2 separate regions of the Homo sapiens genome follow, and region 1 is linked to region 2. Evidence: fine-mapped expression QTL. Tissue or cell type: whole blood. Region 2 holds a variant in brackets; the other region holds the start of a gene. All regions are shown on one strand. Distances are between the middles of the regions. Region 1 holds the start of TSPAN14 (tetraspanin 14). Region 2 overlaps TSPAN14 (tetraspanin 14).

Region 1 (14,800 bases), 50 kb before region 2:
CTTATCTCCCCTCTTCTCTTGCCTTCTCCCTTCATCATTTAAACATATTTGAGTCTCTCCTTTGTTTTTCTTGTTATTTTCTTTTAATAGAAACAGGGTTTCACTATGTTGCCCAGGCTCACCTGGAACTCCTGGGCTGAAGCGATTCTCCCACCTGGGCCTCCCAAAGTGCTGGTATTACAAGCATGAGCCATCGTGCCTGGCCCAAGTCTCTCCTTTCTTAAACAAACACCCTCCTGCAACTGCTTATCCTCATCATCTTCCAGTTAACAACCTCTCTCTCATTTTCCAATTGCTGTTCAGCCCACTGTTAACTGTCTTTGACCCAATTCTCCACTGAAACAGTTCTCTGAAGCTATTAACCCCATGGTTGCTCTTCAGCCTTGTTTCACTGGCCCTCTGCAGCCCTGGAAACTGGACCACTCCCCTCTTCTTGAAACACTTGTTGCCCCTGGACTTCCATCCATTCCACCCTCTTGGCTTTTCTCCTACCTCACTGGACAGTCTTCCTCAGTCTCTTTGGTCCCTCTGCTCTCTCGTTTTCCAAAGATTCTGTCCTTGGTCCTTTTCTCATCTCCCAGTCCCAAAATAATCTCCTCTACTCTGATGATTTCAATTATCACACACTGCTTCCTCAATATCGATTCTCCCTTCTTTCTTTAAAACAGGAGTTAATTTTTTAAACATTTCCCAACCTCCTTTGGAGTTAGGGTTTGTCATGTGACTGCACTCGGCGAGTGAGGCATAAGCAGTAGTCTGGGGATTTCTGGGTAAGTTTTAGGTGTTGCCCCTTCATTCTTTTTGCTCTTTCTTCTGTCTGGAATGTGGGTGGGAAGCTGGAGCTGGGGCAGCCATTGTATGACCACAAGCCAACTCTGTCCCCTAAGGAGAGCCAGACACACCAACAGAGAGGAGCTGGGACCTGATGACGTTGTGGGGCTGCTGATCAGCCTTGCTCTGCTTACCTTTAGACTTCTTGTTGTGTCAGAATTTTTTCCTACAACTACAGCGAGAAAGCTGAATGTAGTTAAGGCAATGTAGTTGTGTTGCTATTTTCTCTCCCCTCCCTCCCTCCATCCTTTCCTTCCTTCCCTCCTCCCTCCCTCTTTTCCCTCCTTTCCCTCTTTCTCTTTCTCCTCTCTCTCTGTTTTCTTTTTTTTTTTTTTTTCCTAAAGAGATGGGGTCTTACTATGTTGCACAGATTAGTCTCAAACTCCTGGGCTCGAGTGATCCTCCTGCCTCAGCCTTTCAAAGTGTTGGGATTACAGATGTGAGCCACCGCACCTGGCCTTGGGTTATTGTTAGAAAAGCTAAACACAATTTCAAATGGATACAACTTCCAAACTGATAACTTCTGTTTAGCTGTCTCTCTTAACTCCATACAGCAAATTGCACCTCTCCACCCTACCCAGGAACACTTCAAATGGAAGAGGTCTAAGGCATCACCTCTCACCAAACATATTATACATCCACACAGGGTCTCTTGTGTTCCTTCTCAGTGAATAGCGCCACTGCCCACGCAGCCAGAATATGATGTCTCTTTATTCCTCATTCTCCCATGCAATTAGTCACTTGTCAGTTCCAGCTCCTAAATATATCTTGATTCTGTCCACCTCTTTCTATTTCCTCATCATTTCTTTTCTAACCATTTTTTATTCCAATCTTGCTCCCTCCCACCTTCCCTTCCCACTCCAGCCTTAGGGATCTTTCTAAAGTACAGATATAACAATGTCACCATTCTGCCTAAAACCTGCCCAGGGCCTAAAGAATACTTGGTATAGAAGACTGCTAAAAATGATGATGTTGGCCCTGCACACACCACTACCCCTTCTTCTGCATAGGCCTTGCCCTACTGATCATAGGCATGGGCATGTGACCCAGACCTAGTCCAATTACGATATCTCATCTCCCTCATCACGCTGGTTGTGTCAGAGTTTGTTTGGCTCTCTCAAGCCACTCCATGTTGCTGTAAGAATGGGTCCAGGAGTGAATATGTGACCAGAGCTGACCCAATTAGGATCCTTTTCTTTTCTTTTTTCTTTTTTTTTTTGAGATGGAGTCTTCCTCTGTCGCCCAGGCTGGAGTGCAATGGCACAATCTCAGCTCACTGCAACCTCCATCTCCCCTGTTCAAGCACGATTCTCTCACCTCTGCCTCCTGAGTAGCTGGAACTACAGGCATGCGCCACCACACCCAGCTAATTTTCCTACTTTTAGTACAGACGAGGTTTCACCACGTTGGCCAGGCTGGTCCGAAACTCCTGACCTCAAGTGATCCGCCCGCCTTGGCCTCCCAAAGTGCTGGGATTACAGGCATGAGCCACTATGCCCGGTCGATCCTTTCTTGAGATTTGTTCATACCGACTTAAGAGTGTAGACTTACTCAGTCACATACCTGACATGGCAAACTCTGAGAACTAGGAGAAACAGAGGGTAGGGCCCCCGTTCTGGGACGTTGTCAGGATCAGCCCCGTTTTGTGTCACTCTGGTTTCAAGTTCTTCTTTCAATTCTGTGAGCAATCTGAGGCTCCTTCCAGTATCTCCCCTTTGATGACCTAAGCTAGTCTGAGTGGGGTTCTCATTTCCAGCCAAAATGTCCCGACTAATCCTTGGTAGTCTGGTCCTAATAAGACATCTTTCCTGGGTAACAGAGTTCTTTACAGCTTACCCAGTATTTTTCGAAGTTTTACAAACTTTATCTCTTTGGATTTTTATTACAAGCTTGTGAGGTGGGTTTTAGTATTACCTTGACTTTACAGATAAGAACAGCAGGGCTCAGGAATGTAAAGTGGTTTGCTCAAGATCATGTTGAGAACTAGGAGAGCTTGGACACCAACTCCCTCTTCTGTTCAATCTCACCCTGACCTGCCCATTGCCCTGTAAACACACACAGAGGCTGCAGAGTGGAGCCCAGGGTGGGAGTGCAGCACTGGGGACCGACACAGAGGGCTATAGAAGTCAGGGGAAGACAAAGGGCAAGCTCTTCCACTTACAATTTTATCTGTGGCAGCTTCAGGTCCAGGAAAAAGATAAGAAACTCTCAGCTTTTTTCTTTTCCTCCTTCCTATACTGTTTTTTGTTCCCACAGTCCATACATTAGGCTTGCAGTCTGCACTACAATTCAGTTATATGCTTGGCAATTATGGTTCTAGGTGCTAGCCAGGAAGGTAAACCACTGGTTACAATACAACCCTTTTATGAGTTGGGGCTGTCTATATTGAATTTTTTATTTTTTAATAAAGGAGAATAAAATAGACCTGTTTTGCATTTCGTGTCTCTGAGGCTCTCTCAAGCCACTCCATGTTGCTGTAAGAATGGATCAGATAGGCCAGGCACAGTGGCTCACGCCTGTAATCCCAGCACTTTGGGAAGCCAAGGTGGGCAGGTCATGAGGTCAGGAGTTCAAGACCAGCCTGGCCAACATAGCGAAACCCCACCTCTAATAAAAATACAAAAAATTAGCTGGGTGTGGTGGCACGTGCCTATAGTCCCATGAATCCAGGAGGCAGAGGTTGCAGTGAGCCCACGCCATTGTACTCCAGCCTGGGTGACACAGTGAGACTCCGTCTCAAAGGAAAAAAAAAAGAATGGGTCAGATAAAGCTCTGTGGGTCTCTGCTACAGCTGGGAATGGCAGGTGAGTGTCAGATGTGACTGTCTGGGGCATGGCAGGGAAGGCCATGCTGGCTTTGTGGGTATTCCCACCACACTTTTCATAGCAGCAGTGTGGCCAACTATTCCAGAAAGGACACATCTCCCAGACGCTGCTCAGGCCAGCAAGATCTCCAAAACCGCTCAGTCCATGGTTTGCAAAACTGGCTTCCCCATCTCCTTCCTCCTTGTTCTAGCTCATGACCTCCTGCACATGCAGGATTGAGCAGAAATCACCAGGTGTGAGTAATCATCTTCCCAATCCCAGCCTTTACCGGAAACCTCTCCTCGGCCTCCACACTCCTCTCCTTAATGATGGTGGAGGCGTCCCTTTGTAGGAGGTGACCCTCGTTAGTGCCTATACCCTATCTCCTTTCACCTGCTCTTCCTATCATGGCCCCTGCCTTCTTCTTAGATCATTCCTATCAGTGTGCAAGCCTGCTTCAGTGACTCCCATATTTTAACAAACCCCTCTTTATTCCAACAAATGTTAGAATTAGATGTGGCTACATGTGCCATAAAACAGAGGATTAAACAAGACAGAAATGTCCTTCTCCCATAAAGAAAGTCAAGAGGTAGTAGTCCAAATGTGTGGTGGCTCCCTACACATTAGCATCCACATTTATTCTCACTTCCACTAACATCCTCAACACTTTGGCTTCCACTTAAGATCCAATATGGATGCTTGAGCTCCAGCTATCTATTAATATATCCTAGTGGGCAGGAAAGAGTAAAGCACATGACTTCCCTTTAAAGCCAGTTTTGAATTTGCACATGGACTCCTACACTTACTTCCTATTGGGAGGAATGAAGTGTAGCTGCAAGAGAGGCTGAGAAACTTGCCTTTATTCTGGGAAGCCATGTGGCCAGACAGAATTAGAAATTCTATGAAGGGAAGAGAGAATTACTACTAGGGGCATCTAGCAATCTCTACCAAAGCATCCTATGCTTCCGTATCCTTTCTAGATCCCTCCCAGTTCTCCATTCCCTGTTAGACAAGTTGTGCAAATATGGTAGCTCTACCACAGCATGGCTTCCACCACTACTCCAGGAACACTGCCCTCATCATGTTCACCAATTGCCTTCATGTTGCCAGAGCCAACAGGTCCCAGTCCTCATCTTACCTGATCTCTAAGCAGTGTCTAACACAGCTGACAACTGCTTTCTGGAAACATTTTCTCAGTCTCTGGGATACTCCTGATTCTCCTTCTGCCTCCCCAGTCTCTTTTTCAGTCTTCTTGCCTGCTTTGGTTCCCCTGGGTCCCTCCTGAACTCTCTCCTCTTCTGCATCTACTCCCTCACCCTGTGTGTCCTTCTCAGATCCCGTGGCCTTGAGCATCTTTATGCTGATGTATCCCAAAGCCCCTCTCCCGCCCTGGCCTCTCTTCTGAGTTCCTAGTGATGAGATAACCCCGCTGGTTCTCTAACAGGCATCTGAAGCTCCATGTGGCTTGAACAGAATTCCTGATGTAACTCCCTGAGATGTGGTTCATGCTTTTTGATCCAATAAATGAAGCACTATCCACCCACTTACCCCAGCCAGAAACTTGAGTTATCTTTGGTTTCTCCATTTCCTGCCCCCATGTCCTTCCTATCAATGTGTCCTCTTAAGTCCAAAATAGCATCTCTCAACTACTCATCTTAGCATGACCACCACTTTGGTTCAAACCACCATCATCTTTGGCCTGGATTGTGGCAAGCCTAATTGGCTCCCTGCTTTTATTTTTGCCTGACACCCACACACAGCCTTAAATCAGAACATGTTAGTCTTCTGCATAAAACCCTTCCAAGGCTCAACAAAGTCTCCATTCTTTGACACAGCCCACAGGCCCTGCATGCTTTGGCCCCCACCCACCTTCTCACTCCATCCTGGGCCTCTTCCCCTAGGCTTAAAACTTCAGCCACACTGATTTTCTTTCAGTTCCCTGACCCATCCAGAACTTACCCTGAAAAGGCACCTACTGCTCTCAGCGAGGAATGTCTCTGCCCAACTTTTCCCAAGGCTAACTCCTTACTCTTTTGACTTCAATTTCAGCATCGCCTCCTCACTTTCCCTGACTGCTTCATCTAAGGTAGCTTTTATTCTCTATTCTAGCCCCTTGTTTTTGTCCCAGCCTTTACTTCAACTTGTGATTATGTATTTGTCTTCTCCACTAAAAATTAACTTTATTGGGCAAAAGGCCTCAGCTGTCTTGTTCACTGAAGTATCCCACCATGCACACAGGGCCTGGCATATTATCAGGCACTCAGACAAACACTCACTATCTGCTGAATGAATGGACAGGTTCCCAGGGAGTTTCCAGAGCTGCCTGGGCTGTCACAGACAGGTTGCATCCCTCTTAATTAAACAAACAAATAAAATTAGCCAGGCACCGTGGCTCATGCGTGTAATTCCAGCACTCTGGGAGGCAGAGGCGGAAGGATTGCTTAAGCCCAGGAATTTAAGACCATCACTGGCAACACAGCAAGATCTCGTCTCTACAAAAAAAAAAAAAAAAAAATTAGCTAGGTGTGGTGGCCTGCACCTGTGGTCCCAGCTACTTGGGGAAGCTGAGGCGGGAGGTCGAGGCTGCAGTGAGCCATGGTCATGCCACTGCACTCCAGCCTGGGTGACAAAGCGATACCTTAGCTCAAAAAACAACCCAAACAAACCTGGGAATGGACTGAACAGTCTCCATTTCAAGATTTCCTCCTTCCATTGGAATTAACCTGTTGGTTGCTTGTACTGGCATGTGGCAACCAGTCTTAGCCCAGTTTTAATAGATCCCTGTTTGGTGTTACTCAACAGAGAAGACCACTCGGCCCTCAGCCACCGAATAAGTTTAAGAAACAGAGGTGTGGCATGCTTCATTCTACAGGTAGGGAGGCTGAGGCTGGGGAGCCGCCCCTGGCTATCCCTGGAAACCCCTCTACCCCACAGGAATCGTCCCAGCCATCTCTTTAGCGTAAAGGTGAGGAACAAATCTCAGCCACGATCCAAAGAGGGGCGCCACCCCTGGCTGTCCCTGGAAACCCCCCTACACCACAAGAATCGTCCCAGCCACCTCTTTAGCGTAAAGGTTAGGAAGAAATCTCAGCCACGATCCAAAGAAAGCTTGGTATTTTTAGCACCAAGGCCAGAAGGAGCGTGTCCTTACTCCTTGGTTTACAAAGAAATAAAAACCTTTTCCCCATCCTTCTTTTGATTGAAGACTACCCCCGCCCCCAGGCTCCAAAGCCGGGCAGGAACGCCTCTTATCTCCACCACAGCCATTTTCCTAATCCTTCGCCCGCTCTCCACGGTCATCCCGTGTATCCCTCGAGACGCCGCCTCCCACAGCTCGTGCTTCTCCCAGGTTCGGCTCCGACAAGGCCAGAGCGGCGTCTGCGCAGCGCAACGGCTCAGAGCGCTCCCGGCGGCTACAAGTGCCCGGCCCCGGGCCAGGCCCGGCCTGCGCCGCGCACCCACTGGGAGGGCGCGGACCGGGGCCGCCCCAAGCCTCCGGCACCGCCCAGAGCGGGACAAAGGGGCGGGCCGGCGACCCGGCCTCGCGGTCCCCGGTGCCGCGCGGGCCGGGAGGCGGGGTGCGGTGGGGGAGGGGCGAGGCGGCTGGGGGAGGGGCGGGGCCAGGGCGGGCCCAGGCGCCCGGGGCCGCACCGGGCGGCGCAGGGAAGCGGCGCCCCTTCCTCGGCAGACGGCAGGCGCCGCGCCTCCGGCCCCGCCCCTCCGCGCCCCTCCGCGCCCCGCCCCCGCCGCTCGGACGGCCCGAGTCGCGCCCTCCCGCCCCGCGCCGCGGAACTTGCTCTAACTTCCTCGGCCGAGCCGGGCCGCGCCGCCGCTGCCGCCGCCGCGCGCGGGTGAGTAGAGCGCGGAGACCTGGCTGGGGCGTCGGGCCCTGCCCCTTTCTTTGTCTGAGGCCGACTTCCCCGAGCGTTCTCCGGGGGCGAGGGCTGCTCCTTAGGTCCCTGTTTGGCCCCTCAGCCTCCCTCCCCGCCTGCCCAGGAGCGGCCCCGCGGGCGGCGCTGGCTTTGTCTGCCAGGATTGCTCGCTAGAGGTTGGAGGCCTCCGCCGGGACCCCGCTGAGCCGAACTCCGGCGCCGCGCGGACGAGAGCCGCGGCGGGCCCGGGGCCGGCACTCCTGGTTCGGTAGCCCTCGCCCCATCAGCGCGCCCCGGCGAGTGCGCGCCCGTGCCGGGCGGGGTGAGGGCGACGGGAGCCTGGACGGCCGCTGCTGCTCGGGGCTCTGCTTCTCGTCCCCAGCAGCGAGCTCGGGGATGGGCCACCCTTTCGGCTCAGTCACCCACCCTCGGCTCCCAGGAGATCGGGTCCGGGGTGGGGGTGGGCGTAGGCCGGGGCGGGCCGCCCCTTCCTCCTGCCCCGCCGTGGTTGTGCTCAGTCTCCCACGCCGCCGTGGGTCCCACTCTGCCCGGCTTGGGTTTGGGACGGCCGGAGTTTGAGTAGGCGGTGACCCAGCTTCTCCGCGTTAGTCGTGTGGGGTTGTGTTTGGGAGCAAAGCCTGACCCCTGACCTAGCCGGAGTTCTGGTAGAGTGAGGTTTGTGGCTGCGGACTGTGCTTGTCCCGGGCCGCTGCTGCTTCTCCTCCACCCCCAGGGGTGGGGTGCGGGTGGGTAGGAAGTGCCTGTGTGAGGGTGTGTGGAGGGACTTTGGCCCTGGGACCGCAGGAGCACTTGTCTTGGGGACTTAAAGTTGATCTCCGGCGAGAAACAGTCCGTGCTAGGGGGAGTCGGGGGAAGTCGTGGGCCCGGGTACTGGCCTGGGGCTGGGCGCAGAGCGGTGGTGAGTGCGGCGGTGTCACACACTCGTTGGCTGTGCTGGCGCTGCTATCCGGGAGGTCAGGCGGTGCTGGGCGGCTGTGCAGAGCATTGTATTGGAGCCTCTGCAGGTGTGCTCTTGGCAGTGGTCTGCTCTCCAGGGGATCTTCCTCCCTTCCGAGAGGGAGTTGCTCTTGGGCTAGTGAGAGAGTGGCCTGCCAAATCCTCAAAAGTAGCCTTCCCCTTGCCCCTTGACCTTGAAGTCCAGAAGCAGTTAGTGCCTGCTGAGTGCTCCGGCCACCCTTCTCTATTTGTGAAGGGAAACCTGGGGACAGGCCATCGGAGCACCCCTATGTCCTTGCCACATTTCAGCTAGCCGAGTGGTTGGTGGGGGCGGCCGTCTTTCCAGGGATCTTCCTGGGCCCTGGCACCCCCAGAATGAAGCCCAGACTCCACCATAATGGCCCTGTATGCCCTTCTATCCCCTTAGCTGCTGGTGTGATCATAGCCTCAAATTGCTGGGCTCAAGTGATCCTCCCACCTCAGCCTCCCAAAGCACAGGGATTACAGGTGTGAGCCACCACGCGCAGTCTGATCCCACTCCGATCCCTAACGTTATAGTGACAGGCCCTGGAAACCCAGGGCCACCAGATGTATTTTCCCTTTCCTTCTCATTGTGTTGCACCCCAACTTCAGTTGGAGACTCTGGATATATCCATCCCCACATCTCTGAACTCCACTGCTTGGGCCACCTAATGTCATCCTCAGTTTAGTTAACAAAGCATGGTTGAGATTTCTGTGGGGTGCGAGGCATTGTTGCAGGCACTATTCCAAGTCTGGAAAGTCCCTCACCAGCTATGAACTTGGTGTGGTCTTAGAACCCAGGCTGGACATGGCATAGGTGCTCAGTAGTGTTTATTGATCTGAGCTTGATCTCAGCGTAGCAGGATCATTTAGGGAGACGGGGTTGTGGGGGGGGTCTGAGCCCATGGGTGCTTCTGAAGGTTTGTGGCTGCCCCAGGAAGAAAGGGCATGGAGCTGCAGAATGGTTGGCTGCCCAGGGAATTGTCCCCTTCACCAGCTGGGCAGCTGTGCTAGTCTCTGAGGACTGGTGAAGGTCCTTCTCATGTAGGAAGTGGCAGTATGAAGTGGGAGAGGAGATGGCTCTGCCCTGAAGGTTGTGGCGGCAGTGAAGTGAAGTTCCCATGGAGGCCGGGGAGCAGGAAAGCCCTGGGTTCTGGAACTATTTCCTGAGGCCTCACTCTATGCCACCATGTGCTCAGGAATTTGACCCATTTAACTTCAACTGAGGTAGAATTCCTTTTAGCAGTGCCTGCAAAGTGGCATTGTGCCAGGCCTGGGAAACCTTTGCTGGCTTAAAATTTAGTGAAGGACAAGATTATTTCATAGTGATACTAATGTGAGTTTATTGAGACTTACACCCTAGAAGTTTGACTTGTAATAACTCATTTAATCCTTGAAAACAGCTGTGATGGCTGGGCGTGATGGCTCATGCCTGTAATCCCAGCACTTTGGGAGGCCGAGGTGGGTGGATCACCTGAGGTCAGGAGTTCAAGACCAGCCTGACCAACACGGTGAAACCCTGTCTCTACGAAAAATACAAAATTAGCTGGGCGTGGTGGCACATGCCTATAATCCCAGCTACTTGGGAGGCTGAGGCAGGAGAATTGCTTCAATCTGGGAGGTGGAGGTTGCAGTGAGCTGAGATCGCGCCGTTGCACTCCAGCCTGGGCAACAAGAATGAAACTCCATCTCAAAAAACAAAAAACAAAAAGCAAAACAACCGTGATGTCAACAGCTCCATTTTACAGATGAGGAAACTGTGGTCCCGAGAGGTCACAGAGTAACTTGCTTGAAGTCTCAATATGAGCTGGGTTTTCTCATTTCTTTTTTTTTGATACTGAGTCTCACTCTATTGCCCAGGCTGGAGTGCAGTGGCGTGATCTCGGCTCACTGCAACCTCCGCCTCCTGGGTTCAAGTGATTCTTCTCCTGCCTCAGCCTCCCAAGTAGCTTGGACTACAGGTGTGCACCACCACACCCAGCTAATTTTTGTATTTTTAGTAGAGATGGGGTTTCACCATGTTGGCCAGGCTGGTCTTGAACTCCTGACCTCAAGTGATCCGCCCGCCTCGGCCTCCCAAAGTGCTGGGATTACAGGCGTGAGCCACTGTGCCGGACCAGGTTTTCTCATTTCTAATTTAGACAATATGTTCCTCTCAGAGGTGATTAAAATGGATTCATATACCAAACAAGCCTGGCCCACAGTGGAACTAATGAATGTTTTCAGTGAAGGTGCCCTTGTATCCCTGCCTCTGAACACATCTCATCTGTCCAGCACAGCCTGGGCACATAGCAGGTACCCCGGAACCCCCGCTGATTGGTGATGGAGCTTCTGTCTCCCTAAGGCCAGGGAATGGGAAGACCAGCACTACCACATGCAGAAGATTGGGGAGTCACTGCTTGTGTCTGTCTGGACAGATCACGGTTTGCTGTGGTAACAGCAATCCCCAGGTCTCAGAGGCTTAAAGCAACAGAGGTTTATTTCTTGTTCACACTGCATGTTCATCACTTATCTGCTTTATGTTGTCCTCACTGGGGGGACCCATAGTGATTAGTGGGAACACCCCTGGTGGCTTGGACAGAGGGACAGAGAACATGATGATCCCTGTGTCCTGCCACTGAGTCCTGGTGGCCTTTAAGATGCCTATGGGAAGGGGATTAGGTTCCTGCTGCCTGTCTCTGCCCTGCCGTGTCAGTCCTTGGATATCTTGCATGTTCCATCCGCTACCTGGATGTGGCCTGTAGGGGCAGCCACCTTTCCTAGAAGCAGGAGCAGGTAGCGATACCCAGGCAGGCCTGGTCCTCCCCACTTTTGTGGGACTCGGGGATTGAGCTTGCAGGCATAGGGGTGTAGAAAGCAGTGGTAGCGAGGTGACTGAAGGTGGACTCCCACTGGGGATGGGATTGAGTGTGGGGCTAGATCCCTGGTCTGTAGAAGGGAGTAGGAACCCTGTTAGTTAAATTTTCCCCCTCAGGCCACGTTAGTAGGATTTTGAAGAGTCAGCCACACTGTGGCTCTTGATTTTGTGCCTGGTCACCTGCTTGGTCTCTGGTGATTTCCCTCGGGGCCAGCAGACACTGTTGGAGGTGGTGAGGCCTCAGGTTCTTCTGCTTCATGGTTAACTCACTCTGCTTAGGCATATTTCCACCTTTTCCAGGGCCTCCGTTTTTCTGCCAGTGGATTGAGAGGTGGTGGTGGTCTCCAGCAGTGGTCTCACTCTTGGCAGGCTATCAGAGTACCCAGGGAGCTGCGTAGAATGAAGTTTTGAGAGTCTTTGGTCTAGGTGAATGCCAGCGTTTCAGTTTGCTTATCTTCCATTATAGTAGTGTCCTCTGTAACTGTGAATCAGGGAGGTTATTCATAATATCTCCACATCCATTTTCTCCCTTAATTGCGTATGCTTTTGATTTAGACAGGGCAAGTAGCCATTTTGGTGGAGCGCAGGCCCTGGCAGGGGGGCAGTGTCCAGTGCCGCTCTCAATTAAACGTGAAGATGTGAAGATGAATAACACTGTCCAGCTTGCAGAGTGGACGGTGGTGAGGCAAGCTTTCAAGTTGCACCTACTTTCTAGTTGAGTGACCTACACAAGTCTTTGATTTTTTTTTTTTTTCTTCCTGGAAAAAAAAAGTTGTCTACTTTTCTCATCTGTAAAGTGAGAAGAATCAAGTCTGCCTTTTCTGTCTCACGGGGTTGCAGTGAAGCATTAGTACCCTGAGAAGCAAGATCCAAAGCCCCTGAGTTAGGCCTGACACTGGTGTGAGACAGCTGCCATCTCTGGCGGCACTCAGCAAGTGTTCACCAGCAGCTGATTCTGGGAACCTCACTTCCTCCGCCCTTGGGCTTGGTGGGGTTGGGTAGGGTTGGGTGGGGCTGTGGTTTTCTTTTAGGAGGCAGCAGGCCAGGCCTGGAGACCAGAGCTTAAGTGGGCCTGGGCAGGCTGGGGTTGAAACTCTTCACCCCTTGCGGTCTGTACTGCCTCCCAACTGAGCAGCCAGGGAGAAGGCCTAGAGCCTGTGCCTTTCAGCTAGATAGCTGGAGGAACTGGCTCCTCCCTCCTTAGGCTGTGCTGGCCTGAGCTGGGAGCCTGAGAGCTGGGGCAGTTGTCTCTAAAGTGGCTTCTGGGATTCTGGTAAGAGGTGAGCTCCTGGTGCTGCCTCAGAGTCTTTGTGTTTCCTGGCATTTGGGAGAGCTGGAGTTGGGCTGTCCTGCATGGGTAAGGTTTGGGGAGGGACTGGAACAAGGGGCTAGTGAACCTTCTCTGGGTTTTTCCTGCCTGACTATGCGTTGACAGTCCCAGCTGTTGGGCCTGTGCTCCTGTACACTGCACGGCCTTGAGAGGAGTTCGGAGCCCTAACATCCAGGAGAGAGGCCCCACAGCAGTGGAAGGAAATGGGCCTCTCCCGAATCTCTTGTTTGTACCCCGAGGTCTGAGTGGTGATCCTGGGGATGCTATGGGACTCTCAGCAGTAGGAGTGTGTCTGTCCCCAGTCTGGGTGCCCACCAGCTGTGCTGAGGGTCCTCTCCTGTGTCCCTGGGCCAGGCAGACAGGGTCTTTTTCTGGGGCTTGTTAGGGGAGGTCAGCCACAGCCCCAGACCAAGTAATTTACACACCCTGAGTGAGGGGTGGGAGCAGTGGGTCCAGGAAGACTTAGGGAGCTGGTGAAAGAAAAACTTAATTCTGACACTTGTTAAACTGGTAAGGTAGACTGTATCAGGACTATTACGATAGATGTAGGAATTATCGCAATGGATTTTGCAGTAGAGGGGAGAGAGTGGGCCAACTCCAAATACAACAAAGAAAAGTGGGAACTTATAGCCAAGGAGCGGAGTGTGGGGGCTCCTGAAAATTTCTAAGAGGGTAGGGAAATTTTTACTAAACTTAGCTAACTGAATTCTTGCTGCAGGCAGGCCAGGGTGATCAGGTTTTACCTGGGAGATAGTACAGGATGAGAAATACGTTCAGATATCCAGGGTGATTAGATATTGAGGTTGGGGGATTCTGGTTAACAGGAGTTTTGCTAAAACTAGGCTCTTAGAGAGAATGGAGTTAGGAACCCTAGGTCAGGACCAGATGAGTAGAGGGCTCAGAGGAATAAAGTTTGGTGAGGGACAGAATCTCTGTCAGTATCCCGTGGTTGGCAGTGTCCTGTCCATTCTTCTTGCACTGGCCTGTCCCTCAGGAGACAGGTGTGAGTGGTCCTGAGCTTGGGCCAGTGTAAGAGTAGGGGACAGGTTTCTCTCCTTGTAGGTGTCCCTTCTTGTAAGTGTCACTCTCTTTTTTTCCAGAAACCTTGGTCCTTTTCAGCATCTGCTGGCCCCTTGTCCCTTGGCTCCCTTGCTCTTGGCCTGCTGGATTTCCCCTCTGCACCCAGGAAATCGCATGGACCTGGGTCCTTGTTTCCCTACAGCCCACCAATTTTGCTGCTTTTTTCTGCCCCCTGAAGCTGAGCTCCTGCTGCAATTTGTGTTCCCTGCTCTCCCTGTCCTGGGCAAACCAGTCTGACAACTTTGTGGTTCTCGCTCCCGCCTCCATCAGCCTGGGGATTGACTGTCCCATTTGTCTGAGCTGGGCAGAGGGAGGTGCTGTGGGGGATCTCTTCCTCTTGCCTGGACTGCACACTCCTGCTGCCTTCTAGCCGGAGCTCCTGGGCATTTTGCCTATGGGAGCTTCACCAGCTTCCTTCTGTCTGAGGCCTACAAGTCCCTGCCTCCAGCCTACCTTGTTCCTCCTCCATGAGTGAGGCTCCTCCTTTTCTCTCTGGCCCTCCTGTCTACTTGATCAGACTCTGCCTCTCTTGAGGGCCGGCTCCCTCCAGCCTACCCTGCACAGGTGACCCTGTTTGGCCTGCCTCCTTTTCTTGAGGCTGATCTTGTCTCAACAGTCAGCTTTTCAGGAACCAGGCCCTTGCTGTTGTAAGGAAAACCTGTCGGCTGTGGATGGGGCCTTCCCTCCTTCCTAAAGGCTCTGTAGCCAGCTTCCACCCTTGCAGTGGAACAGTGGTGGTGCCAGAACCCTGCTCTCTGCAGCCATCCTGCCTACCACAGTCATTGTGTTTTGTAACTCTAGTAGCTTCTTGTGAAATACAAGTGATGGTATAAACGTGGATAGGTTTTTGAGGGGGGCATGCCAAAATCAGAGTTGGTGGTAGTGGTGGGGGATTCATTCCCAAGGGCTCTGGGGTGCTAAGTGTGTGAGCAAAGAGGAACAAGTGGCATGTGCCCAGGATGGGGTGGGGCGGGCAGGTTTAGTTGAGGGCTCCTCTGGTGTAGGGTAGCCCTGACGCTCCCCTCCATGGCATGACTGATGAGGTGGC
Region 2 (14,800 bases):
GTTACAGTGATATAAAAACATACCAGTGTTGGAGACCTGAGTATAGGGTATCCCAGGCTTTGTGTGGCTGAGCAGGATGACATCCCATCTTTCCTCTCCAGGTCCAGATGGTTTTAGTGTGATAGTTTACAGCTGAGCTTTTCAGACTATGGCTTGCAGGCCAAACCTGGCCTTCCGCCTGTTTTTACACATACAATTTTATTGGAACACAGCCACACCCATTCATTTATGTATTATCTATGGCTGCTTTCCCATTATAACAGCAGAGTTGAGTAATTGCTACGGGGATCATCCAGCACACAAAGCTGAAAATATTTACTATTTGGCCCTTTACAGAAATGCTGACCACTGCCTTAGTATCTTGATTTTCTACCCACTGTTAATCACTGTGAACTGTGCCAAAGTTAGGTTGGGGGGTTCCCTCTCTCCTGGGGGTACTGCCTATCACCTCCCTTGAATGGCTGTGCTCCCTCCGCCTGCCTTCATTTCCAGGGCCTTGACTCAGGTTCCTGGGCGGGGCTCAGTGGGGGTCAACTCTGTTATCTGGCAACACAGAGACAGCTGTGGAAGCTGCCCCTGGAGCCCTCTGCACAGTCCTTCCCCACATTGGGGCCCTCACATGGGTTTGCTGGCTCTGCTGGGAGGGCACATGTGTTGCCTTTTCTCAGAACCACCCTTCCGGCAGGAGGAAAAGCTGGGGTGTGATAGCTATGTGACCCCATGCAAGGCACCTCCTGCTCTGGGCTCTGTTTCCCTCTGTCATAAGGAAGCCGAGCCCTAGCATCCCTTCTGGCTCCCAGACCTTCCGAACTCCCACTGACAAGTGGCTTGGTTCAGGCTTTCAACACAGGACAGATAACTGCAGCTCCTCCCTTGGCCCACTGGGCTCTCAGGCCAGGTTGGGTCTGGGGTCTGCACCCTCTGGTCCTTTTTGGCTTCAAATTCTATTCAATCGTCAGCATTTCAAGTGGCCACAAGCATCTCTGTTGTTTCCTGAATGCCCCAGGCCTGGATTCAGGATTTCTTATTCTGGAGAGTACCAGGACCCTGGGGTTTCCGTCTGGTGTAATTTATAATGGCAAAACTCAGCCAGTGGGAGGTGCATGGGTCCTTGCTGCTTATTTTGCTGATTGACAGACTGAGGCCCAGGAGAGGGATGGCTTCCTCGAGACCCTGACTCTGTGAGTTAGGGACAAAGCTGAGACTCAGTCCTGGCTTCCTCCACTCTCTGCTGTTTTCTTTCCATCATCCTTTCCTACCTCACTTGAAAAGCCTCCAGAAGGCCGTATTTCCCTAAGCTCTGCTTCACTGTTGTCTCCAGAAGCCCAGTAAAACAGGTGCCTCTGGAAAGCACTTGGTCTTAGGACAGAAGCTGGTGCTGGAAGTAATTGGGGGTGGGGTACAGAACACCAGTGTCAAGAGAAGGAGACTCTGTCTTCAGGACAGCAGATGCTTGTGGCATATCCTTGAACGCCCCTCACATCTCTGCTCTGTCTGCCGTGCGGGAGGGCATGGCCACCTTGAGACTGGCTCTGTGCCTGGAGTAAGCATGTCACGTAGGATCTTCCTTCAATCTTTACAACCTTCCTGTGACCTAGGAAAGATAATCCCTGTTTTGTAGAGAACATAGGCTCAGAGAAGGTCTTGGACTCGCATGAGGCCCTGTCACTAGGTAGCTACAAAGCAGAGACTGGACCCAGGGCCGGCTTTGTTCAGGGGAAGAGGCTCTGTGAATGTCAGGCTGAGTCAGCGTGTGGATTGTGCAAGACCCGGAGGCCAGCAGGGCAGAGCCTGAGAGCATCGCCTGCTGCTGGTGATTCGCCTTGATCTTGCTGAGGAAAGGCCTCTGGGGCCTGCAGGAGTTGCCAAGTACTTTTATACACGCTTAAATGAAATCTTGCAAGGAGCCAAGGCCATTAAATCATGGGTGAGAGGCTGCCTTTGACCTGCTTGGAGCTGCATCTTTCTCCTCCAGTTCAGCAGGGCCTGGCCGGGTGTCACTTCCTTTTGTGACTTGATTGTGCTTGGGTAAAGTACCACAAGCTTGCTCGTGTGGTAAGTGGATTTCTTGTGTCTGGACTCTGGCTGGACCAGCCCAGAGTGCCCCAAGAGGACCTCCTGCCTTTCGCAAGGTCATTTGCCTAAGGTGAAAGGTCAATATTTAATCTTCACAGTGACCCACAAAGAGGCCCTGCTGCCTTGTCCACCTGCCCTGGTTGGGACACAGCGTGGTCTCACTGCCTGACAGTGTGGGTCATTTGGCTGTAGAGCTGCACAACCCCAAAGCCCCCCTGTGGAATTCCTACATCCCCGGGCTCTTGTGTGAGTGCCCGTGTGTGGAAGGCAGCTGCTCTGTGGGTGGTAAGATACTGTGTTGCCAGGGTCAGAGGCATCCAGGTTTGGTTCTTAAGTCTGCCACCAGCTAGCCGTGTGACCTTGGGCAAAGGACCAAATTGCTCTACATTTGAGCTTTCCCATGTGAAAAATGAGGGTAATTGAGCCAGAGTTATGGGATATGGAGGGATAGCCTTAGGTCCATTAAGTATTTAATGCAGCGCACAGCTCCCAGGAAAGGGCAGCTATTCACAGTGACCATAGCAGTTTAGGTGCTCGCTGGTCCAGCAGAGGAGGCTGGCCTCTCCTCAAGCTGGGCCGGAGCTGGGCCCCGTTCTTCAGTAGGTAATTCAATTAGGTCATGGGAGGGAGACAAAGAAGGTCACTTGAGGCTGGAGGGCACTCAGCTGAACCCTCACTCCCAGAAGATTGGCAGCCAGGGCTCACAGCAGCCAGGGCTTACCTGGCCTGGCCCCATGGACCATCTGCTGCAGAGTTCCAGGGAAGGGTTCCGTGGGGTGAAGCGGGCCAATGACCCAGTTCATTCATGGGACCGTTATGTGAGCTCTCAGGCAGATCACTTCCCCTGTCTAGTCCTCCCTCAATCTCCTGGTCTCTGAAACCAGGTTTGTTGGTACTCAGAGTTCCTGCCCTGGGCCACTGTTCATTGAACCCATGATCTGACATGTGATCCCCAAGTTCCTGTCTTTCCGGTGTGAGTTAACTTTAGTTCTTCCTTTAAAACAGAATGAAAACAACACAAGGCCTTATTCTTTTTTTTTTTTTTTTTTTTTTTTTTTTTTTTGAGACGAAGTTTTGCTCTTGCTGCCCAGGCTGGAGTGCAATGGCGTGATCTTGGCTCACCGCAACCTCCACCTCCCAGGTTCAAGTGATTCTCTTGCCTCAGCCTCCTGAGTAGCTGGGATTATAGGCATGTGCCACCACGCTCGGCTAATTTTTTATTTTTAGTAGAGATGGGGTTTCTCCATGTTGGTGAGGCCGGTCTCAAACTCTTGACCTCAGGTGATCCGCCTCCCAAAGTGCTGGGCCTCCCAGCACTCGGCCTCCCAAAGTGCCGAGATTTCAGGCATGAGCTACCACGCCTGGCCAAGTCCTTATTCTTAGAGCTGAGAGAAAGAGAACTGCACGCAGTGGTGGGGAGCTGGCTTCCCCAGTAAACACAGAGTCAGCCAGGGCTTTCCCTGGGGGCCTTGAGAAGAACAGCAAGCGAGGGAGGGTGTGGTCTGTGGGCCATATGCAGAGCGGTAAGCGGCCCTACAGCGGCCCTGCATGTGGGGAAGGGGCGATTGGAACAGAGGTGAGCAGGAGCAGGCCTACCTTTGCATGGGCACTGTGCCCCTGAGGGTGGGGATATGAACTGCTCTTGAGGTCGAGGGTCTTTTTTGAGAACTTGTGCAGACCAAAATTCCTTTTGTGAAACCAGTCACCTCTTCCTATTGTATCTATTTAGTCACTATTTAGTCACCTAGGAGAACAAAACAACTAAAACAGCACCTCAGCGTGAATTCACAGAAACCTATTAATATAGATGGAACTGACGCTGTTTTTTTTTTTTTTCTTTTTTTTTGGGAGACCTGGTCTTACTCTGTTACCACCCAGGCTGGAGTGCAGTGGTGCAATCTCACCCTTGACCTCCCAAGTTCAAGCAGTCCTCCCACCTCGGCCTCCCTGGTAGCTGGGAATACAGGCATTTTTTTTTTTACAGCTAATTTTTTTAGAAAACCTTTTTTTTTTTTTTTTTTTTAAGAGATGGGGGTCTTGCTATGTTGCCCAGGCTGGTCTTGAACGCCTGGGCTCAAGCAATCCTCCTGCCTCAGCCTCCCAAATTGCTGTGAGCCACTGTTCTCAGCCTGAGGCTGGTATTAATGTGGGAAACAATACCCTTAGAAGTCAGACTTAGTAGTCAAGGTGAGAGAAGGGGTGAGCTGTGAAGTGCAGTGTGGAGGAGAGAGGGGAGCTCCAGCAGTGGTTTTGTTGAGTGTCCTTAAGGTAGACTTTTCTCACCTGTCCCATGTGGCCCCACAGGATGAGCGGACTGTCATGGAAAGCTGTTAGGCAGGGGCTGGAATGTCTGTTGGGAATGCTGGATGGGGCATCGGCCTCTGGGCTTGTTCTGCTCTGACCATAGGCAAATGCCCCTGTATAGAGCTTGACCCATGCACCTGGGCCAGGCTGAGCTTTTCTTGGCCCACATTTGCTCTGAATGCCTTTGGATTGAATCACACCCAGAAGTGTGCCTGGGGGTAGCTAGAAGGACCCAGGCAAGCACTGTCCTGGTCTTGAATCCTGGGGAGTCACTCATGCCTGCTCTGTGCCTACTGAGGGCCAAGCCCTCCTCGTTGTTGGGCTGCAACTCTGAACAAAACAGGTAACATCTCTGGCCTCAGAAGGGCTTAGCTGGGGAGACACAATAGAGAGACAGCCCCTGTGGTCTGGGATCAGTGCCGCGAAGAAAATCAACAGAGGAGGTCACACATGGAGGATGGGGAGCAGTTCCACTCAGGGTGGTAAAAGGAGGCCTTGAACGCAGTGAGGGAGGAGCCAGGAATGGATATGGAGGAAGAGCATTGCCGGCTGAGGGAACAGTGTCCAGGCTCTGAGGCAGGGGTGATTTTGATGACTTCAAGAAACAAGAATGTCAGGGTGGCCCAGGGAGTGGCGTTGGAGCAGGGAGGTGGGAAGGAGATGCCGTGGGAGATGTGTGTGAAGCCTGGCTGCAGAGGCCCTTGGGGGCCATGGGAGAGACCGTGCATTTTCTTCTAGGTCTGCGTGGGAAGTCACTGCAGAGTTTCGAGGAGGGGAGTTCCCAGCTCTGTATTTTTGAAGGGTCAGTCTTGTTGCTTGGACCAGTGAGGAGCCCCGTGGGATCCAGACTCGAGTGGGTGGAGCCGGGGCAGGTGGGAGCAGAGACACTGGAGGAAAGCTGGTCGAATGCACTGTGTATTTGGAGGCAGAACCAGCAGAGGGTCCTCTGGGTTGAGTGTAGGGCAAAAGAGAAAGAAGGCACCAAGCCTGGGGTCTGGGTTTTCTCTCTTACACTTGCTGGGTGGACGGTGGTGCCACTGAATGAGACGGAGAAGAGTTGGGGGGAGCTCGGTTGGGGTTGGGGGACCAAGGCTGCGTAGTGGGGCACAGTAAGAGTAAAATATCGTTAGCTGTCTTAGGAGGACAAGTAAAGTAGACATTAGGGTATTTGACCGGGGGCATGGCCAGGACTGGACATCTGAGTGTGTCACTCAGCAATGTTTAGATGGTATTTAAGCCTTGTGAATTATGAGATCATCGAGAGGGCTCAGGGCAGGGTGAAGGAGCTAGGACTGTGAGTGAGGCCCACCAGCATCTAGAGGGGTCTGAAGGAGGAGGAGGAGGAAGAGCAGGGAGGAAGGCAGTCAGGGGCATATGCTTGGGGTCCCCGAAGCAGGGTGTGTCAGTGGAATGGTTGGAGGAGGAGAGAATGACCAGCTGTGACCAATGAGGTCAGATACCATGAGGAAAAGTCTTGGCCTCCAGCTTTGGCAAGAGGGAGGCAGGTCCCTGGGGGCCTTGAATAAGATGGGTGGGGATGGAGCCTGCAGGATTCGGCAGGTGGTGACCAGTCACCTTCAGGTTGCTCAGCATGCCAGTGTAAGACACCTGGGGAGGGAAAGGAAGCGGTCATGCATTCTATCAGGAAAACCCTTCCCAGCTAGTCAGTTCAGGGGGAGGACTGAGAAGCGGGAAAAGGGTGTGGTGTGATATGGTAGAAAGGGCTCTACCCCCTTGGCTTGGTGCTGTATCCAGTACTTGAGACGGTATCTGGCACTCGGGATGTACTCCGTGAATATTTGTTGAATGAATGAGTGAGGAGTGAATGAATGAACTGAGACTTGTGATTCAGCCCTTCTCCCCACTGCCTGACATTTTGGTCTTGGCCCTCCCTGGGCCCCAGTGCTCTGCTTTTGTAAAATGGAGGGATTGGTTCTTGGTGGGGGTTCTTTACTTAGTGTTCACAGACCATTGTGGGAGCCAGCAGTGGGAAGCTGTGACCCCTCTAAAATTTCATGCAAAATACTGGGCATGTGTGCATTTTCTGAAAGTGATCTGTGATCCAGAAGAGGTTGGATCACAGATCACTTTCAGGTTGGATGAGACTTCCTGGGGCTTTCCTTGAGCCCTTTCTTTCCATTCTAGCCCCTGGGGCTAGTTACTGAGTAAAATAGGTAGAAGTGGCTCAAGGCTTGAGATCACCGGTAGTCATAGAGAAGCGTGGTCCTGTTATTTATCGTGAGATGGTGATAAATGGCAGTGAAATGCCAGTGTGGTGTAAAGTAGTCACAGAAAAACAGGAGGCAGCTTTATTAACAGAGCCCACGTTGTGTTTTGTTGTATATGGAAAAGCCCTCCCTGGTTCAGGAACCTGTGTGATGTATTTGGGTGGGCGCCTTTCTGTTGTGGTGCACATGGGGTATGGGTTCCTGCAGGTGGGAAGTTGGGGTTGGGGGTGGTGCTCCTCTGGGGCGAGCTCATTGCTTAGAGCAAGCCTATTTTCATTCTCTAGCTAAAAGCCCAGCCTTTCCTGAGCATAGATGCGCCCCCTGCTCATTGTAGTTAACAGTAGGGAGGAGGCTCAGCCCTGGCCAGTGAATGGCCTGGGCCACTGGATAGCTGCTTATCTGTGCCTGGAGTCTATCTCCAGGGCTGGAGAGCTGGGGTGTGTGGCAGAGATGCTGGGCTGTTTCCCCCTGTCCTCACCCTGTGGTGGTGCCTGGTCCTATGCAGTCTCATCCTGTGTTGGGAACCTCTGAGGGGACCTGGGTCAGCCCTCCCAAGGGGTGATGTCTTCGTATACACCAGATAGTGCACTGAAATGAGTTCAGGGTTGCAGAAAGGGGAAGAAGCAGCACAGCCTGATGTCTGTGACCCATAGTCTCTCCAGGGTGGAGTCCGCTCTGAGATCTTTTCCTCTTCCTTCCCTGGGGCATAGGGTCATCTGAGGTTGAAGGAGTTTGTCCAGATATTCAGGAAGGTAGGTTCAGGTTATCTGTCATCTGCGGGGCCTGAGGGGCCATGTGGGATGTGAGCTAGGAGCATGCCCTACCTGGCAGTGTGGACTTTGCTCTGTGAAGCATGTTCACAGTGCTGGTTTCCAACCTAACTTCCTTCTCTCTTTCCTCTGCCCCGCTTAGTTGGCTGGAGTTGTCTTCCTTGGAGTCGGGCTGTGGGCATGGAGCGAAAAGGTAGGTGTAACTGTCGCAGGACACTGAGCTTCAGGCAGCCAAAACCAGATTCGTTGGACTTCATTTTCCCTCCTCCAATCTGTTCCCTGACAACAAGCATTTCTTGTGCAGTGTCAAGGTGTATAATTGTCAATCTTTACAGACACAGCTCTTGCGTACTCTGCCCACATGATAGTATTGGCTGCTGGAGGTATGGGCTGGGCTGGTTGGGTTTTGAGCCCTGTGGATGTGGAGAGCTCAGCTCTTGTATGCAGCTGTGCCCAGAGCAGGCTTGGGCA[A/G]TCCAGCTTCCTGACCCTGTCTGTGCCTCTGGGAGCAAGCGGGCAGGTCCCTGAATACAGGCATGCTTATTGTGGAAGCCCTTATCCTCCAGGATGAGAAAGAGCAGGCAGCAGGGAGCGGGGCTGGGTGACATGCCCCCAGGGTGCCCTGTGGGGCAGGGGTGGGCCTTTAAGCACCTCTGGGCCTCCTTGCCCAGCCTCAGGAGGAGAGGGGAGGAGTGGAGACCTGGCTCCTACTGTCGGGAAGGACATGGTGCAGTTGCGGCTCCAGGAAGGGGATGAGACTGGATATGGGCAGGGTGGGGCTGTGCTGCTGCTTGTTGCCCTGTGGCAGGGGTGCTGGGGAGGCAGTGAGGGCTGAAAAAGGCCAGGGAGGGAAGAGGGGAGGGGAGGGAAGCAGTAAGGTGGAGCAGGCCTGGCCAGAAAGAGCCAGGAATAAAGCTTCCTCTAGTGTCTTGAGCCTAGGCCTTCTTCCTTCAGTGGAACCTCCCTTTGCTTCCAGCAGGAGGAGGCAGGAGAACCTAGGTCTACAGGCTTTCCTGCCATGGTCTTAGGGACTGGATAAGGCCCACCTTCAGGTTTGGGCACCTTCCAAGTGGCCTGTGAACCCCTAAAGGGCAAGAGCTGGGGTACGATGTCCCTTTGCCCCAGTGACCCAGAAGCAGGTTCAATCTGTGCCTCACAGCACCACCGTGTGGCTTCCCCTGGGACTGCAGCCGCCTAACTGGGTGTGGCCCTGAGTGTGGAGCTGGCTACTACAATTCCTTTGAATCTGTCGATCTAAAATAAGTGAAAAGGCCAGAACCTAGTTTAGAGAGAGTTTATTCAAGCACACATGTTGAGGACAGGCCTACCCAGGAAGCACAAATTCCAAAGAATGGAAGTCAGCCTTCCTGTTCGAAATGTAGGAGCTTGGGATCATTTATCCAGCCAAAGCCAGACAGAGACTCTGTTGCCCAGGCCGGAGCGCAGTGGCTGGATCTTGGCTCACTGCAACCTCCGCCTCCCTGGTTCAAGAGATTCTTGTGCCTCACCCTCCCAAATAGCTGGGATTACAGGCATGTGCCACCATGCCTGGCTAATTTTTGTATTTTTAGGTAGAGATGGGGTTTTGCCATGTTGGCCAGGCAGGTCTTGAGCTCCTGGCCTCAAGTGATCTGCCCTCCTCGGCCTCCCAAAGTGCTGGGATTACAGACGTGAGCCGCCATGCCCAGACACCTATGTATGTCTTGATGCTTAGTCACAATGTTCTGATTAGTTGAGGCGGTCTTTTTCTTTCAGGAAAGGTATGTTTAACATTCCACACTGAAGATGTAATTGTCCCTGGGTCTTAGATGATATCTGATCTGAGTTAGTAAAGAACAATGAAGGAAGCAGTTAAACTATAACAGAGATCAGTGACTGGAAGGGGGGCTGTGGTCTCTCCGGTCCCTTAGTTCAACCATAATCTAAGAAACAGAATTGCAAACATGCTACATGACTCAGTCTCCAGGGCTTAGCTTCCCCCTTGGCGTTTTACAAACCCTATGGAACTGCTCTGCCCATTGTGTGACTGTGTTTATATTTAAATTGAAATTGAATATAAATTAAAATTCAGTCCTTCTGTCTCATTAGCCACATTTCAAGTGCTCCACGATACCTGTGGCCAGACAGTGGGGGTATAGTCTAAAACACCTCCATTGGTGTAGAAACTTCTATGGACAGCATTGCTTTGGCCTGCCCTTGGGCGTGTTTTCTACTAGAGTGTTCATATTGAGGCTGTTTTCATCTCAGAAGAGTAGTGTTCTTCATTAATTAGGTGCCAAATTGGGGGACTAACAAGGTCAGCCACCTGGGTGACCAGTTTGACCACAGGCCACAGGGCCCCGTTTCCCTCCAGGCCTGGAATAGGCACCCCACAGGCTGCAGAAGAAGCCTGGTGGCTGCCTAGGAGGAACTTGTAGCGTAGGTGGAGGCCAGGAACACTTTCTGGGACCTGAGGTGGGCAGGGATCGCCTGGTCGGAGGGGCCCCTAAGGGCATGGATGGGGCCGGACTCTGGCCTGGCTGTCAACAAGAGGGCTGAGCCTGGGGAAGCAAGTCCCTGTTTTCAGTACCACCTGCATCCCCCAGGGCAGCATCCTTGACTCCCCTTCTGGGCCAGTGCTGCCCTGCTTTCTCTGTCTCTTTCAGGGTGTGCTGTCCGACCTCACCAAAGTGACCCGGATGCATGGAATCGACCCTGTGGTGCTGGTCCTGATGGTGGGCGTGGTGATGTTCACCCTGGGGTTCGCCGGCTGCGTGGGGGCTCTGCGGGAGAATATCTGCTTGCTCAACTTTGTGAGTGGCCACAGAGACAAGAGTGGGATAGGATGCAATGGGGTACAGGCTCTGCTGGGCAGGATTATATGTTACCTGGTCAGAGCAGGTGGCAGCTCTTAGGAGCCTCCCCTAGGCCCCTGCCTGGGAGCAGGAGGCAGCCATTTGCACTCTACTGTCTAGAGAAGCTGGTTCCTCCCAGCAGGAGAATTAGGTACCCTCTGGTTTTTAGCCCTGGGTGGGAGGAGCCAGCTGCCTATAGGCCAGCTCTACTCCCCGCTCCTTTGCCTTTTATCTTCCTTCAGAAATTCTAAAAGAATTGTTTGTCTGCTACTGTCCTTTGCCCTTCCTGGCTAAGATCAAAAGATGTTGCAAGTAACCTTAAATCATTTCCCTCCTCCAAGGATGTGTGAGTCTGTTGGATGTACAAGTCAGAATCCCAAATTTCCTGGCAGAACTGCAGATTACTAAGAGTTTAGTTTTATATTTAGATACAAATTCATGTTTAGATTTATTCAGTTAAATAACACCTGGTGGGGAAAACACATTATCATATTTTGCAGTATATTGTTTGTTGACTTCATTAGATCAAGCTTTCTTTTTCTTGGACATAATTTTAAAAGCAAAACTATGGGCTTTTTGTCCTAATTTTTTCTCTGGAAAAAAAAAAGAAAAGCTATGTTTAGCATCTTGCTTTTATATGAACAGAGATTACGTTTTGGCAGGCCTTGTGTGCATATGTGTGTTTCCTTTTTCTTTTCTTTTCTTTTTTTTTTTTTTGATACCGAGTCTCGCTCTGTTGCCCAGGCTGGAGTGCAGTGGCGTGATCTCGGCTAACTGCAAGCTCCGCCTCCCGGGTTCACACCATTCTCCTGCCTCAGCCTCCCGAGTAGCTGGGACTACAGGCGCCCGCTACCATGCCTGGCTAATTTTTTTTTGTATTTTTAGTAGAGACGGGGTTTCACCGTGTTAGCCAGGATGGTCTCCATCTCCTGACCTTGTGATCCTCTCGCCTCGGCCTCCCAAAGTGCTGGGATTACAGGCGTGAACCACCGCGCCCGGCCGTGTGTATGCTTTTTCTTACTTTGAAAGATTACTCCAAATTGGCCGGTTGTGGCAAGCTGCTTAGTGTCTTATATGGCCAGTGATAATGTCTGTGAGAGCGCAGACTGCAGGCTGGGAGTCTGCCCTGATGGGATGTGGACCTGTGGCTGCACTGGCCCCTTGCAGAATGCCACCACTGCTTGTGGCCTGGGGCAGCTGAGCTTCTGGAGGGGTCTTTATGCTGACGATCATATACTTTCATGCAGAGTTGGTACAGATAACATTGGCACTTCCAGAATTGTAAAGAGCCCTGCAGGGAACTCACATGTCCTGCATGAACTATGTGACCTCAGGCAAGCTATGTACCTCGTGACATAGCCATAGTTTCCTCATCCCTAAAGTGAGGTAACAGATACGTAGGCACTCGATGGTTTTGTGTGTGTAGTGGGGAGTCATCAGATAATGTCTTGGGCACAGTGTCTGTCCTAAAGGAGCCGACACCCCAGGATGCCACCCTGGAGGGTCCAGGTGGAACTGCTGGGGTAGGACAGCCATTCATTCCTGTGATAGGGGTCTCCTCCTTGTCCAGGGAGGAGGGCTGCTTCATAGCAAGTGATTGACACATTGGCTTGGAGCTTTCTCACACTTTTTCACGCATTTGAGTGTTATCAGCAATGCAGTGACATGGGTAGGGATAAATAGCCCCTTTTTACAGATGAAGCGAAGTTGTGCAGAGTCACCCAGCTAACTCTAAGTGTGGGGTTCTGGGGCCCCGATGTGGGACTCTCAGGTGCAGAGCCCACGCTCTGCTGAGGATGGTGGTTCTGGGTCAGGTGGGGTTATGTGTGTGGGGGTGCAGGCTGGTGGGGTGGTGACTTCTGCTCCCGTCCCCTTCCCCTGCAGTTCTGTGGCACCATCGTGCTCATCTTCTTCCTGGAGCTGGCTGTGGCCGTGCTGGCCTTCCTGTTCCAGGACTGGGTGAGGGACCGGTTCCGGGAGTTCTTCGAGAGCAACATCAAGTCCTACCGGGACGATATCGATCTGCAAAACCTCATCGACTCCCTTCAGAAAGCTGTAAGCACCTCCCCAGCGGGCCCCCGATAGAGCATGCACCTCCCTGTGCTGCCTGGAGCTGAGTCTAGCAGGGGCATCAGGCCTTCTCTGTGGGTTGTCTGCCTGCAGCTTGGCAGACAGCAGGGAGGCCGTGGAACAAGCCACTCCACCTCTGGTCTGTTCCACTTTGCCGGCTTGTGGTTGCCTGGTGGGCCAGCCCTTTCCCATTGGGATTGGGCAGGCAAGTCCAGCTGTACCCGAGGCCACCCACCCCCCACGTGCCCGGCCCTCCTCTTTCGGCCCCAGATCTTTCCAATCCTGCCCAATAGCCATACCAGCTGCAATCCTCCTTAGGCGCTGCATACCGTAAGGCACAGCTTCTTCCCCCCGGCTCATGACTCACCATCTGACGCTATTCCTATCCCCTTCCTCCCCGGGACCTTTTCCCCTTCCTCCCTGGGACCTTTTCCCCTTCCTGTTTAAGAAGCCAGGGCTGCCTGGAGGAAGCTTTGTCAGATCTAGTGGAATGTGACCTCCCTGGAATATGTGCCCAGGGGTTTGTCTAAGCAGTTCCAGGCTATGGCCTTTACTCCATCTGGTCCCCATCCCTCTTATCTCTCTCATGTGTGGCTGCACCTGGACGCTTGGACCATAGCTGTCACAGCCCCCTGGGGAGGAACCCACTCCTTGGCCATGTCAGCCTGTGCAATGCAAGGCTCTTGTTTGATCTGTGTGCTGACAGAAAGCCCAGCTTCCTTAAGAACTTTTCATGTGGAACACTTTGGTTTTGAGAAGAAAATAAATCAGAAACCATTAAAAATCTATGATTCACTCTCATTATTAACCAAAACTTGTTCACCTTTATTTCATGTATTATGGGATCCAGCAAAACCCATTTATGGGACCAAAGACCCTGCCTGTATTGTTATTACTAATGTGTATTAGTCTGTGAAAGTCACCAAATCCCCGCCATGTTTTGATGCCTCTCCTTTCTTTTCTGTTCAGTGCCACCGTCCTTTTTTCATTTTCACGTAGCCTTGGCTTGCCTGGTCTCAGCATGCTAGGTTGCGGTTCATCCCTGCATTGCCTTAAAAACATAGTTTTCTGCATTGACTTCTTTTTCTTTTAAAAATAAAACTTCTGGCCGGGCGCGGTGACTCACGCCTGTAATCCCAGCACTTTGGGAGGCTGAGGCGGGTGGATCACAAGGTCAGGAGATCGAGACCATCCTGGCTAACATGGTGAAACCCCATCTCTACTAAAAATACAAAAAATTAGTGGGGTGTGGCGGTGGGCACCTGTAGTCCCAGCTACTCGGGAGGCTGAGGCAGGAGAATGGTGTGAACCCGGGAGGCGGAACTGGCAGTGAGCCGAGATCACGCCACTGCAGTCCAGCCTGGTCAACAGAGCAAGACTCCGTCTCAAAAAAAAGATAAAATAAATAAATTAAAACAAAACAAAACAAAACTTCCCAGGGGAGGGATTCAGTAAATTACAGAGCTTCCTTGGAGTGAAATTTCAGGTAATCACTAAAGCAAGTGGAACCGTGGAGGTGTGGGGGAGACAATTTTACCTGAGAAGTAAGCAAAACAAAATAACCAACCAGAAATCACTGTTGTCATTTGTTGTGATTATTGCCATAACCATGTCAGCTGTAAGGGCAAATGCAAAGAAGTTTTTTAGGGGAAAAGACACTGTCAACTTCACAATGATGCTTTCAGTGTTTGGATTTTACACACTTTTTAGTCAAATAAGGATTTTCTTTGTAGCCACACCAGATGCGAGGAAGGGGAGGGCAGAGGCCCCAGGTGTGGGGCAGAGCTTTGATTGTGTTACCTTTCACCTTCATCGGACCTCTTTTCCTCAGGAGCAGACACTTAGCAGCTGTTTTTTGTAAAGGGGTGAAAAGGGGAATTCACTTGCAAGTTTCTCAGGGAGGAAGAACACTGCACACTAGGAAGTGTTCTCTTGTGGCAAGTAGAGGACCACACCAAGGTGCCGAGGGGGCCACAAAGGAGAGGACGCCACTCTCCTGTCTGAGGAGGCTGGAAGGAGGCGTCTCCTTTGAGGAGGCTGGGAAGAAGAGCAAGCTCCCTGCTAAGGAGGGCCAGGGCTGGGTATGTTGTGCCTGGCAGTGGGGCCAGAGGGCTCCACTGAGCCAGCCATGTGGGTTGGACAGAGGAGGCACCGTGGCCCGGAGATACCTTCACTGCCATTTCCTTTTTGTTATTATTTTCTTTAACACATCAAAAGGGCAGGTCCTCTCTCTCTCTCTCTCTCTCTCTCTCTCTCTCTCTCTCTCTCTCTCTCTCTCTCTCTCTCCCCTTTTTTCTTTCTCTCCTTTTCTCTTTCTCTCTCTCTTTCCTTTCTTTCTTTCTGATTGGGGGTGGGGGTCTTGCTGTGTTGCCCAGACTTGTTTCCAACTCCTGGGCTCAAACCATCTTCCCACCTCAACCTCCCGAGTCACTGAGGTTACAGGCCTGAGCTACTACGCCTAGCTGTTTTCTTCTTAAAGGGCTGCCTGGGTTGCCAGCTTAGCATCTCTGCACATGGGAGG

Evidence for each region.
Region 1: it holds the start of TSPAN14, and the variant in region 2 is fine-mapped to the expression of TSPAN14 in whole blood (TOPMed, PIP 0.98).

What each region holds. Positions count from the first base shown.
Region 1 is chr10:80,446,886-80,461,685 of GRCh38, forward strand. It overlaps TSPAN14 (tetraspanin 14), which reads left to right and starts at 7,425. Exons shown (of 9, transcript NM_030927.4): 1 at 7,425-7,486. RefSeq lists silencers at 2,708-3,002, 7,021-8,070 and enhancers at 6,781-6,990, 7,734-8,251, 8,201-8,460, 8,491-8,540, 11,258-11,337 and 1 more.
Region 2 is chr10:80,497,208-80,512,007 of GRCh38, forward strand. It overlaps TSPAN14 (tetraspanin 14), which reads left to right. Exons shown (of 9, transcript NM_030927.4): 3 at 7,521-7,571; 4 at 10,021-10,167; 5 at 12,094-12,264. Among named protein-coding and RNA genes, the nearest start is that of TSPAN14-AS1, 31 kb to the right of the region's middle. RefSeq lists an enhancer at 147-1,110 and a silencer at 2,626-2,920. The variant A/G (reference allele first, on the strand shown) is at 7,850.